4 separate regions of the Homo sapiens genome follow, and regions 1, 2 and 3 are each reported to be linked to region 4. The links are microRNA targets in miRTarBase. Many come from high-throughput screens and were not tested one by one. Region 4 holds a microRNA gene; each other region holds the end of a gene's coding sequence. Distances are between the middles of the regions.

Evidence for each region. The annotated mature microRNA hsa-miR-6883-5p reads AGGGAGGGUGUGGUAUGGAUGU and lies in region 4 at 1,081-1,102, shown strand. An mRNA with a match to its seed (bases 2 to 7 or 8) in the 3' UTR can be bound and repressed. Matches are read on the target gene's strand: a 7mer-m8 pairs with bases 2 to 8, a 7mer-A1 pairs with bases 2 to 7 and ends in A, and an 8mer does both.
Region 1: miRTarBase lists TTC9C as a target of hsa-miR-6883-5p. The part of its 3' UTR that is shown has no 7-base or 8-base seed match.
Region 2: miRTarBase lists CEP43 as a target of hsa-miR-6883-5p. The part of its 3' UTR that is shown has no 7-base or 8-base seed match.
Region 3: miRTarBase lists IGFBP4 as a target of hsa-miR-6883-5p. Seed matches in the 3' UTR shown: 7mer-m8 at 1,266-1,272.

Annotation. Positions count from the first base shown.
Region 1 is chr11:62,737,692-62,740,799 of GRCh38, forward strand. It overlaps TTC9C (tetratricopeptide repeat domain 9C), which reads left to right. Exons shown (of 3, transcript NM_173810.4): 3 at 597-945. The coding sequence ends at 691. Among named protein-coding and RNA genes, the nearest start is that of TTC9C, 11 kb to the left of the region's middle.
Region 2 is chr6:167,039,447-167,042,559 of GRCh38, reverse strand. CEP43 (centrosomal protein 43) reads right to left here. Exons shown (of 13, transcript NM_007045.4): 13 at 1-2,656. The coding sequence ends at 2,582. Among named protein-coding and RNA genes, the nearest start is that of CEP43, 42 kb to the right of the region's middle.
Region 3 is chr17:40,456,319-40,459,428 of GRCh38, forward strand. It overlaps IGFBP4 (insulin like growth factor binding protein 4), which reads left to right. Exons shown (of 4, transcript NM_001552.3): 4 at 131-1,407. The coding sequence ends at 265. Among named protein-coding and RNA genes, the nearest start is that of IGFBP4, 14 kb to the left of the region's middle.
Region 4 is chr17:8,143,034-8,146,146 of GRCh38, reverse strand. It overlaps MIR6883 (microRNA 6883), which reads left to right and starts at 1,076; the gene lies at 1,076-1,153. It overlaps PER1 (period circadian regulator 1), which reads left to right. Exons shown (of 23, transcript NM_002616.3): 17 at 10-189; 18 at 1,154-1,396; 19 at 2,271-2,881.

The DNA.
Region 1 (3,108 bases), not on the chromosome of region 4:
TCTATTTTAATGATAACTGCTTCATCAATCTTGCTTTCATTATGAAATTAGCAACCAGTGTCCAGGCATGGTGGCTCACACCTGTAATCCCAGCACTTTGGGAGGCCAAGGCGGGTGGATCACGAGGTCAGGAGTTCCAGACCAGCTTGGCCAACATGGTGAAACCCCATCTCTACTAAAAATACAAAAATTAACCAAGCATGGTGGTGCATGCCTGTAATCTCAGCTACTTGGGAGGCTGAGGCATGAGAATTGCTTGAACCCGGGAGGCGGAGGTTGCAGTAAGTGGAGATCCCATGCTATTGCACTCTAGCCTGGGTGACAGAGCGAGACCCTGTCTCAAAAGTAAGTAAATAAATAAAATAAATAAATAAATAAATAAATAAAAATTAGCAGCCGGGACAGAGATTGTTTTTTTTCAATTCCAAATGTTATTAATTAATGAGATTTACTATTGCATAGAATGGTTGCGATATATTCAGATCTTGGAGAGATTTTAAAATGGGAGCATGTTAACATTCTCTCCTGCCACAAGGTATGATTATGGTCTTAACTGACTCTAACTGTTTCTAATTGCTTCTCCATCATCTTCCAAGATGCCAACGTCCGGCGGTACCTCCAGCTGACACAGTCAGAACTCAGCAGCTACCATAGAAAAGAGAAGCAGCTCTACCTGGGCATGTTTGGTTAACAAAGAAGAAAGATGCTCCTCCAGTTGAACTTAGGTGGACCATTAAACATGCATGAAGGAGAAATCTGAGCCTCAGCAAGAGAAATTAACCCTATACCTCTGACCCAGGTGGATTTTTGTTTCTAGTTCTGCACAAACTTCACTACTTAGACAGTCTGAGTCTTTTTCTGTCTATCCATCTGTTTATTTCTATACCTTTCAATACATGTTATTGTTGCAGATATTTGGCTTGAGAAATATAATCAGAAAACATACATCAGTTGTGGGTGGAATTAATCATATCTCTGGTATAGATTTTTCATGACAGTGTTGTTAGATGTACTTATATACAGAGGCGACAGCTTGCAGAGGACGACATAGTAAGGATAGGCAGAAAGAATTGTCTTCCTTTATTTTTTCAGAAGCCCAAACCAAAGTGGGAAATATGGCCGGGCGCTCTAGCTCATGCCTGTAATCCCAGCACATTGGGAGGCTGAGGCCAGCGGATCACCTGAGGTCAGGAGTTCAAGACCAGCCTGACCAACAGGGTAAAACCCTGTCTCTACTAAAAATACAAAAATTAGCCTGGCAAGATGACACACGCCTGTGGTCTCAGGTACTGGAAACTAGACAATTATAAATGAGCCAGGCTGGGCATGGTGGCTCACGCCTGTAATCCCAGCACTTTGGAAGGCAGAGGTAGACAGATAGATAGCTTGAGTCCAGGAGTTCAAGACCAGCCTGGGGAACACAGTGAAACCCTGTCTCTATAAAAGATGCAAAGATGGCCGGGCACGGTGGGTCAGGCCTGTAATCCCAGCACTTTGGGAGGCCGAGGCAGGTAGATCATGAGGTCAGGAGATTGAGACCATCCTGGCTAACACAGTGAAACCCCGTCTCTACTAAAAATACAAAAAATTAGCCGGGCGTGGTGGTGGGCGCCTGTAGTCCCAGCTACTCGGGAGGCTGAGGCAGGAGAATGGCATGAACCCGGGAGGTGGAGCTTGCAGTGAGCAGAGATCACGCCACTGCACTCCAGCCTGGGCAACAGAGCGAGACTCCGTCTCAAAAAAAAAAAAAAATGCAAAGATTAGCTGGGCCAGGTGTTCACCTGTAGTCCCAGCTATTCTGGAGGCTAAGGTGGGAGGATTGCTTGAATCTGGAGGGCAGCGGTTGCAGTGAGCCAAGATCCTGACACAGCACTCCAGCCTGGGTGACAGAGTGACGTGTCTCAATAAATAAATAAGCCCAAATATACTAAAGTAACTTTTTGTTTTTTGAGACAGAGTCTCACTCTGTTGCCCAGTCTGGAGTGCAGTGGTGCCATCTTGGCTCACTGCAACCTCTGCCTCCCAGGTTCAAGTGATTCTCGTGTCTGAGCCACCCAAGCAGCTGGGATTACAGGCATGTGCCACCACGCCCGGCTAATTTTTTTGTATTTCCTTTTTAGTAGAGACATGGTTTTGCCATGTTGGCCAGGGTGCTCTTGAACTCCTGGCCTCAAGTGATCCACCCACTCGGGCTCCCAAAGTGCTGGGATTACAGGTGTGAGCCACTATGCCTGGCCAAAAGTAACCATTTTGTTTAATTTTTTCTTTTTCTTTTAATTTTAAGTTCCAGGATCCATGTGCAGGATATGCAGGTTTGTTACATAGGGAAACGTGTGCCTCGGTGGTTTGCTGCACCTATCAACACATCACCTCGGTATTAAGTCCAGCATGTATTAGCTATTTTTCCTCATGTTCTCCCACCCCCCGCCACAGCCCCTGTTAAATTAATTTCTTATTCTCCTTAATATTCCATACACATTCAGATTCCTTCTCCCCTACAAAAATATTTGCTATTTTGTCCTTGCTATTTCTCATACTTAGATCATTCATACACTATATTTATTTTTTCATTAAACTATTTTAAAACCTTTGGAGTAAAGCATTTAAGTATTTATTTAATAAACCCTTCAGACCTCATGCTAAAGAAAACACCTAAGTGAACATTTTAAATTTTAATAGGTGCTTATCTATAGTATCCTCATTTCTCTTAAAAAAAAAAAAAAAAAAAAAAAAAAAAAAAAAGACCATCCTGGCTAACACGGTGAAACTCCGTCTCTACTAAAAATACAAAAAAAAAAAATTAGCTGGGCTTGGTAGCGTGTGCCTGTAGTCCCAGCTACTCGGGAGGCTGAGGCAGGAGAATGGCGTGAACTCAGGAGGTGGAGCTTGCAGTGAGCCGAGATCACGCCACTGCACTCCAGCCTGGGTGACAGAGAGAGACTCCATCTCAAAAAAAAGAAAAGATTATCACATCTTCTAAAAACATACATACTAGCCGGGTACGGTGGCTCATGCCTGTAATCCCAACACATTGGGAGTCTGAGGCGGGTGGATCACTTGAGGTCCGGAGTTCAAGACCAGCCTGGCCAACATGGCGAAACCCCATCT
Region 2 (3,113 bases), not on the chromosome of region 4:
GGCACAGCTCTGGTGCATGGGCAGGAGAGGGAAGTAAGGAGGGGAGGAAGAGCTGTGGGCAAGCATGAGGCAGGGACTAATGGCATCTACACAACTGCCCACAGGTTGTTATCCAACATAAAGTATAAAAGCACAACCGAATATCAACAAAGAGAATAAATGCTTTTTATTCATTTGTAGTTATCAATAAAATGAAAGAAAGACCTAGCATTTTTAAAACTCCACTGTAAAACATAGGTTACCATAAAAATGTATTTAATGGGTTAATATTTCAATATTTATTTTTTAACAGAAAACACTCATCACATGCAAAACCTGTCACTTCACATCTTCAAGTTTCATAAGTTGATAATACCTAATCAAAAAGTACATGTGAAAAGAAAGCTTTTTCATAGTTGAACTTTAAGTCATTCAAAATCATTCAATAAAATGGATGTAGTACTGGCCAGGTGCGGTGGTTCACGCCTGTAATCCCGGCACTTTAGGAGGCTAAGGCAGGAACGAGGTCAGGAGTTCAAGACCAGCCTGACCAACATGGTGAAACCCCATCTCTACTAAAAATACAAAAATTAGCCGGGCGTGGTGGTGTGCACCTGTAATCCCAGCTACTCAGGAGGCTGAAGCAGGAGAATCGCTTGAACCCAGGAGGCGGAGGTTGCAGTGAGCCGAGATCGCATCACTGTACTCCAGTCTGAGTGACACAGTGAGACTCTGTCCCCCCCGCCCCCCGCAAAAAAAAGATGTATGTAGTGCTGACAAAAAAGTTTCATATTTGGCATATTTCTTTTACCCTCCCAAATATTATCAAAAGGTCTGATTCTCTGCGTAACAGAAAAGTGACAAATTTCAGTTGCTACTGTTCGAAAGTTTCATAAATTTAAAAAGCCACATCCTGCTATGCTTTCAAATCATTTCACTGAAACCTAGTTCCTATCAAATATTAAAAATAAATCATACATGTGATCCAGATTCCAGGGGACCAGAACTATAGTGCTTTTAGAAAGTGACTGTTTACAGAGATGACTTACAAAGAAATGCATTTTATAACAACCACACTGGGGGACTGCAACAAGATTACATCTGCACGTGGTGCTGTTTACTAAGACATGAAGAGCTGAAGGAGACTGAGATAGCAGCTCACAGACGGAGGGCAGAAATACACAGGGCTCCCAGGCTGTACCGGCCCAGTTTATGTCCTACTTCCTCTTGATGTTTACAGCTTAGTTTCACTTAAATTTTAAAAAGCCAGATTCTGTTACACAGCCTTAATCCTTACATTTTCATTTCCTCTACATTTTAGAGCCCAAGGAGTAATTTCTGTAATATTTAGGCTAATATGAAATGAGAAACTGGCATTACACAAGTCATGCAGTCTGCTCACTTAACCGAGATCAATGAATTAGGTCTAATTTGCTCCTTTTACTAATAAAGTTAACTTGTAGTAAAAAGCCGCAACTTAATTGAAATTATAAAGTGCAAAAACAGCACAATCCTGCTTTACTTATATATAAATATGCATGCATCACTTTCTACTGTTTTTTCTACTTGCACATTTTAAAATACTTTAGTATTATAAACATCCGTGACCTACATAATAGCAATAATGCTTTAACCGTATAAATGAGACTGTGGAAATTCTATTATTGGCTCTATTTTTAAGGGTTACAATGAAATTATGTACAGTATATAAAGCTTGTCAAACTGAACATGGTCTTAGGCCATTACTACTATTTCATTCCAATTTGGATTTTAATACAATTAACTTACAGATCTGAAATAAAAGCACTGCTTAATGGTTTCAGATGCATTTAAGTTTCAAGGAATCTTTACAGATAATAAATTATAATGAAGAGAACCTACGACTAAAGCTGCTTACATGGATAACAGGAGGAATGACGATTGCAAATGTTATGTTATTGACAATTCTATGAATTAAAACTCATAACCACTTCTAGATTTCTTTAAAACAAGCAAAACTAAATAGCACACACAAGAGTACTTTAATATAACCTTAATGGTCTAACAAACCTTCCAAATGGAAGGAAATACAAAATAAAGTTGACACATCAAATTTAACTTATACTAATATACTTCAGCATTACAAATTTACCAAGTCATTTTGCCAACTATGTGTAGAACCACCTAATATCAAAATATACTATGGTGGGTAAGCTCTGATTCCAGAGGGCTAAAGCCAAGGTTTTCAAAGATCACACGTACCAGCAGCCACACACACAAAGGGTTGCGCGATCCTACGGCTTTATTGACACCTTTCATCATGCTCTTAACACTGATGTTTTCATGGGTTCCTTCCCTGTAATGAAACTGAGTGTAGATAATCAATTTCCATAAAGAAATGTACAGTTAAATTAAGAATATTAAATCTTCCACACATGGGCTCAAATAGGAAGTATTTTGTTTAGTAAAATGAAAATTACTTTTAAAAAATATCTGCAGTGTTTTTGAAATGCAAGGCACCAATAGAGAGCAGACATTCCAGCTGAGTGATTGTCTGGAAAAAAAAAAAATGGAACCGGTCAGTCCTCTGTCCTTGTTAATTAGAATACTTCCTTCTTCGTGTCTATGCAACATCTTCCAGATAATCCGCAACATCACTGAGCTGGGATACAGTCAGATCTTGTGTGAGGTCATCAAGCTTTGTTGTTCAAAAGAAAGAAAATAATTAAGTGTCAGAATGTGAGTAGTCTTAAGTTATTTTAAAAAATCAAAGCCACAATGAGATACCACCTTACTCCTGCAAGAATGGCCATAATCAAAAAATCAAAAAATAATATAAATGTCAGTGAAGATGTGGTGAAAAGGGAACACTTTTACACTGTTGGTGGGAATGTAAACTAGTACAACCACTATGGAAAACAGCGTGGAGATTCCTTAAAGAACTAAAAGTAGAACTACTGTTTGATCCACCAATCCCACTACTGGGTATCTACCCAGAGGAAAAGAAGTCATTATATGAAAAAGATACTTGCACACGCATGTTTACAGCAGCACAATTCCGAATTGCAAAAACATGAAACCCAGCCCAAATGCCCATCAATCAACAACTGGATAAAGACATTGTGGTATATACATACCATGGAATACTACTCAGC
Region 3 (3,110 bases), 32 Mb from region 4:
CCACCCTCAGAGGCCATCTTGAAGCAGCGACCGTCTGACTTGGGGGCTGGGCTGGGCTGGGATTGGGGTGGGTCACTTGGGGTCTCTTTTCCTGCGTCGGAACTGACCCCTCATGTCCTTCTCTTGGCAGTGTCACCCAGCTCTGGATGGGCAGCGTGGCAAGTGCTGGTGTGTGGACCGGAAGACGGGGGTGAAGCTTCCGGGGGGCCTGGAGCCAAAGGGGGAGCTGGACTGCCACCAGCTGGCTGACAGCTTTCGAGAGTGAGGCCTGCCAGCAGGCCAGGGACTCAGCGTCCCCTGCTACTCCTGTGCTCTGGAGGCTGCAGAGCTGACCCAGAGTGGAGTCTGAGTCTGAGTCCTGTCTCTGCCTGCGGCCCAGAAGTTTCCCTCAAATGCGCGTGTGCACGTGTGCGTGTGCGTGCGTGTGTGTGTGTTTGTGAGCATGGGTGTGCCCTTGGGGTAAGCCAGAGCCTGGGGTGTTCTCTTTGGTGTTACACAGCCCAAGAGGACTGAGACTGGCACTTAGCCCAAGAGGTCTGAGCCCTGGTGTGTTTCCAGATCGATCCTGGATTCACTCACTCACTCATTCCTTCACTCATCCAGCCACCTAAAAACATTTACTGACCATGTACTACGTGCCAGCTCTAGTTTTCAGCCTTGGGAGGTTTTATTCTGACTTCCTCTGATTTTGGCATGTGGAGACACTCCTATAAGGAGAGTTCAAGCCTGTGGGAGTAGAAAAATCTCATTCCCAGAGTCAGAGGAGAAGAGACATGTACCTTGACCATCGTCCTTCCTCTCAAGCTAGCCAGAGGGTGGGAGCCTAAGGAAGCGTGGGGTAGCAGATGGAGTAATGGTCACGAGGTCCAGACCCACTCCCAAAGCTCAGACTTGCCAGGCTCCCTTTCTCTTCTTCCCCAGGTCCTTCCTTTAGGTCTGGTTGTTGCACCATCTGCTTGGTTGGCTGGCAGCTGAGAGCCCTGCTGTGGGAGAGCGAAGGGGGTCAAAGGAAGACTTGAAGCACAGAGGGCTAGGGAGGTGGGGTACATTTCTCTGAGCAGTCAGGGTGGGAAGAAAGAATGCAAGAGTGGACTGAATGTGCCTAATGGAGAAGACCCACGTGCTAGGGGATGAGGGGCTTCCTGGGTCCTGTTCCCTACCCCATTTGTGGTCACAGCCATGAAGTCACCGGGATGAACCTATCCTTCCAGTGGCTCGCTCCCTGTAGCTCTGCCTCCCTCTCCATATCTCCTTCCCCTACACCTCCCTCCCCACACCTCCCTACTCCCCTGGGCATCTTCTGGCTTGACTGGATGGAAGGAGACTTAGGAACCTACCAGTTGGCCATGATGTCTTTTCTTCTTTTTCTTTTTTTTAACAAAACAGAACAAAACCAAAAAATGTCCAGATGATTGTGTTTGGTTGATTTATTCTCAGTTAGACACAGGGATGCACCAGGGGTGGAGAGACGGGGACAGATTTTGGGAGGTGAGTATTGTGTGGTCCCCAGACCTGTCTGTATGGTAAGGGACTGCAGAAGGACGGCCAATCCACCTTCCTCTTCCCTGCAACGGAAGTTTCCTAGGGAACTCCTTGGCTTCAAAGTCTGCGCTGTCTTTACTTAGACTCCTGGTGGGCAAACAATGGCTCCTGAAAGGGGGGCATGACCAAGGACAGCCCTGTGGGGGCAGAGCTGTCTCTGGGATCAGCTGGCATGTGGGGCTGGGGCATTTCCTAGGGCATCGGGCGGACTGGGCTTGCATCTGGATTTGATTTATTAATTTGTTGGGGAGGGGCAGGGACACTGCCCTGCATTTGAGGAAAGGGGGTAGATGCTTCAGCACATTCCACAGCTCTGACTGCCGAGATCTCTGACTCGGGCATTGTGCTGAGATTGGATTCTGAGGTTGGGAGGGGTTGACTTTGCTGTAGACTCAGTGCCAGCCACAGCTTCAGAGATTGTGCTCACATGGTATGCCTGGACTCTTGGCCATCCTCCAAATGCCCCTCCCCTCCCACACCTCTGTGCCTTGTGTGTGTGTGTGCACGCATGTGTGTGGCAGGGGGTGGAGGGTCCGGGAGCAGAAGCTGATCTCTCGGTGGGGGCCTTTTTCCAGGAGGTTGCAGGCAGTCTGGAGACGCTGCATTGAGCCTGCCGCCCGCTGCGCGGGCTCCCTCCTATCTAGCTGTGTCCTGGATTCTCAGCCCCCTCCCCAGCTCCAGAGGCGCTTCCAGGCTTCTGATTTCACTGGGCCCCAACTTTGTTGGCACCTGTCCCGTCTGCATCTTGAGGCTGGGTCTGCAGTTCTGTCTCTCTAGCTCTGCCCCAGCAGCAAAGTCCTGCAGCCATCTGGTCTCCCTGAGGCACCACGGCGGCTGCCAGCAGCAGGAGATAAAGAACAAAGTGGTGTTGAGGGTTGCTTCCTCAGCCCCAGCCACTCTTCACAGAGTCCCCTCCTTCTGGAGCCCAGGCCAAGGCCTGTGGGGATGGGAGGTGGTGCACGCTGAAGATTAAGTTTTAGGTTTCAAGTTTAGGGAAAGTATCTCTTTCCCTAAGGCATCTTTTTCAACCCCCTTGTCTCTAGTCCCCTTCCCGATGCTCTAGGCTTGCACCCTTGGCAGTGGTGGTAGGAGGTCCTTTTTCTTTCATGGGCCTCCCAAAAAAGCCAAATTGGCTTGGAAGTAGCTGTGTGCATGGCCTGGGTGTAACTTCGTGACATACGTGCATTTGTGGAGTATGTGTGTGTGCATGCATGTGAGTATGACGCAGTGACACCTGAAACGTGAGTGTATGGGCTTTTTGGGGGTGTGCATGCCTGTTTGATGTGTGAAGGGAAGGTGTGCCATTTGTGTGGTGTGTATATGTGGTGTGTGCATTTGTGTGGTGTGCATTTGTGTGGTGTGTATATGTGGCGTGTGCATTTGTGTGGTGTGTATATGTGGCGTGTGCATTTGTGTGGTGTGCATTTGTGTGGTGTGTATATGTGGCATGTGAACACGTGTGCGATGTGAGGAGAGAGGGAGTGAGACATTCACGGAGCACGCCTGTCTCTCCTGGCTGTGGATGACTGGACTCTCGCTCATTAGGTGATCCCACCTCAGGGTTTGTG
Region 4 (3,113 bases):
TCTGCACAGATCCGCCGTCAGCAGCGCTGTCTGGGGAGGGGGCCACCCCACGGAAGGAGCCAGTGGTGGGAGGCACCCTGAGCCCGCTCGCCCTGGCCAATAAGGCGGAGAGTGTGGTGTCCGTCACCAGTCAGTGTAGCTTCAGCTCCACCATCGTCCATGTGGGAGACAAGAAGCCCCCGGAGTCGGGTATGGGTGTGGAATTGGGGGGCAGTGCTTGGGCTCCACCGGTCTCCCAGCTAGAGCTCCCTCCTGCCTTTCCCCTCCCCTCTAGGGCCTGATGGAGAGAAGGAGGCCTCCCTTGACCTGGGGCTTGGGGCTACTGCTTCTTGCTCTCCCCTCCCTGCCAGGCTTCTCGGCTTTGCCCTTCCCCTGTTCTGCTTCTCGTATTGTTACTGTCAGTTGAAACACAGAGTCTGGGATAGAGGGTTTGCCCTGAGGTGCTGACCACACAGGGTCTGAAGGCAAGGAAAATTGAACATCCCTGAAGGGTCTTTGGATATTGACCTTGAAAATCATGAGGGGCTGGGCATGGTGGCTCAGGCCTGTAATCCCAGCATTTTGGGAGGCTGAGGTAGGAGGATCACCTGAGATCAGGAGCTCGAGATCAGCCTGGGCAACATGGTGAAACCCTGTATCTACTAAAAATGCAAAAATTAGCCGGGCGTGGTGGCGCGCGCCTGTAGTCCCAGCTACTCGGGAGGCTGGGACAGGAGAATCGCTTGAACCCAGGGGGTGGTGGTTGCAGTGAGCTGAGATCGCACCACTGCACTCCAGCTTGGGAGAAAGAGTGAGACTCCATGTCAAAAAAAAAAAAAAAAAGAAACAAGAAAATGTGTGAGGGAAGGCCAAGGGGTGGGCTTCTCTTCCAATGAGAGTTGTGACGGGGTCATCCCAGTAGAGTTCCTGGCAGGGAGTGGCCACTGGAGGGGCCTGAGTATCGTCTCTTCTTCTGGGCCAGCTTTGCATGGAGAGGAGGACCCAGGGCCAGCCGTTGGCAGAGAGGTGACCAAGAAACGTACATGGAGACCAGGCTTGGCTGTGGGGCAGAGCTGCCAGGGGTTGGCTAGGCTATCAGACAGGGAGGGTGTGGTATGGATGTGTTGACCCCTGAAGTGGTTCTGATGACCTTTCCCTATCTCACTCTCCTCAGACATCATCATGATGGAGGACCTGCCTGGCCTAGCCCCAGGCCCAGCCCCCAGCCCAGCCCCCAGCCCCACAGTAGCCCCTGACCCAGCCCCAGACGCCTACCGTCCAGTGGGGCTGACCAAGGCCGTGCTGTCCCTGCACACACAGAAGGAAGAGCAAGCCTTCCTCAGCCGCTTCCGAGACCTGGGCAGGCTGCGTGGACTCGACAGCTCTTCCACAGCTCCCTCAGCCCTTGGCGAGCGAGGTAGCCACCTGGGGCCTCCTGGAGCCTGCCCTCTGCCCAGTCTAGGACTGGATTGTTGGGGGGTGGGTCTTAAGGGAGGTGTTTCTGCTCCAGGGACCCAGGCTGGTGTTGCTTCCACCACTAGGCCCTGCCTAGGGACAGGCCCCTCGCTAGCTTCTCCCCACTAGGATGGGGTTCCGGGCTGCAGCCAGAGGAGGGCAGCCTGGGGGGATGGCACTGGGATGGGCAGGCAGAGGTGCTGTCTCCAGGTAAGCGACTTCAGGCCTAGCCTGGGGGCAGGGGCAGGAAGTATGCCCACTTAGGAGTCAGTTGTCACTGATGAAGAGACATGCATAGATTCTGGGCCAACTCTGGGTGGGGTCTGGGCTTCAAGGGCAGGTGGAAGGCAGCCCCTCCAGGTGCCTGAGGGAGATCCCCTGCAGGCAGACGCAGGACTCAGGACTGGGCTTTCCAGCCCCACTCTTCACTCCATTGCAAGCTAGGCAGAATACGGCCTCGATGGGCAGGAGGAATGCCTAGGCTGGCAGTGCCCACAGGAGTTTGGCGGACCAGAGCCATCTGTCCATGTGTCCATGGACTCACCCTGCTTCCTCCATCTGCCAGCATGCCTCCATCTTCCGCACACCCCCAGCTCGACCCCTCGTGTAACCTCTCCCTGGCCTTGTTCCTTTCTCAATAAATCCCCTTGTCCCTGGCTCCTGTGATTCTTCCCTGAAGGTGCCCCACCTCCTGAGTCCCCCGTTCTGTGTGGGTTGAGAAGCTCTCTCTGGGACCTTGGCCTGTCCTCTCCCTGGTCAGCGTGTCAGGGCAGTGTGGGTAGCAGGGGTACTAACCCCAGGTTGAGGTCCTTGCTAACCCTAGTCTCTCCCCACAGGCTGCCACCACGGCCCCGCACCCCCAAGCCGCCGACACCACTGCCGATCCAAAGCCAAGCGCTCACGCCACCACCAGAACCCTCGGGCTGAAGCGCCCTGCTATGTCTCACACCCCTCACCCGTGCCACCCTCCACCCCCTGGCCCACCCCACCAGCCACTACCCCCTTCCCAGCGGTTGTCCAGCCCTACCCTCTCCCAGTGTTCTCTCCTCGAGGAGGCCCCCAGCCTCTTCCCCCTGCTCCCACATCTGTGCCCCCAGCTGCTTTCCCCGCCCCTTTGGTGACCCCAATGGTGGCCTTGGTGCTCCCTAACTATCTGTTCCCAACCCCATCCAGCTATCCTTATGGGGCACTCCAGACCCCTGCTGAAGGGCCTCCCACTCCTGCCTCGCACTCCCCTTCTCCATCCTTGCCCGCCCTCGCCCCGAGTCCTCCTCACCGCCCGGACTCTCCACTGTTCAACTCGAGATGCAGCTCTCCACTCCAGCTCAATCTGCTGCAGCTGGAGGAGCTCCCCCGTGCTGAGGGGGCTGCTGTTGCAGGAGGCCCTGGGAGCAGTGCCGGGCCCCCACCTCCCAGTGCGGAGGCTGCTGAGCCAGAGGCCAGACTGGTGAGCACTGACCCCTGCGTCTGCCTGCCAGCCCCCACCCCAGCCCCGCCCCTCTGCCACCCTGTGCTGCCTGCTGTCTCTGCCAGGCTGGCGTCTCAGCCTCCAGGAGGTGGAGGGAGTCCCCAGCTGAATTTCTGAATGAGGCAGAAATTGGCTACCTCCTCTTTGAAGGGACAGTCCTGTCTGTCTGACAGGTGGTGAGGACATCTCAATAACTTCTGAGAGAGCATCT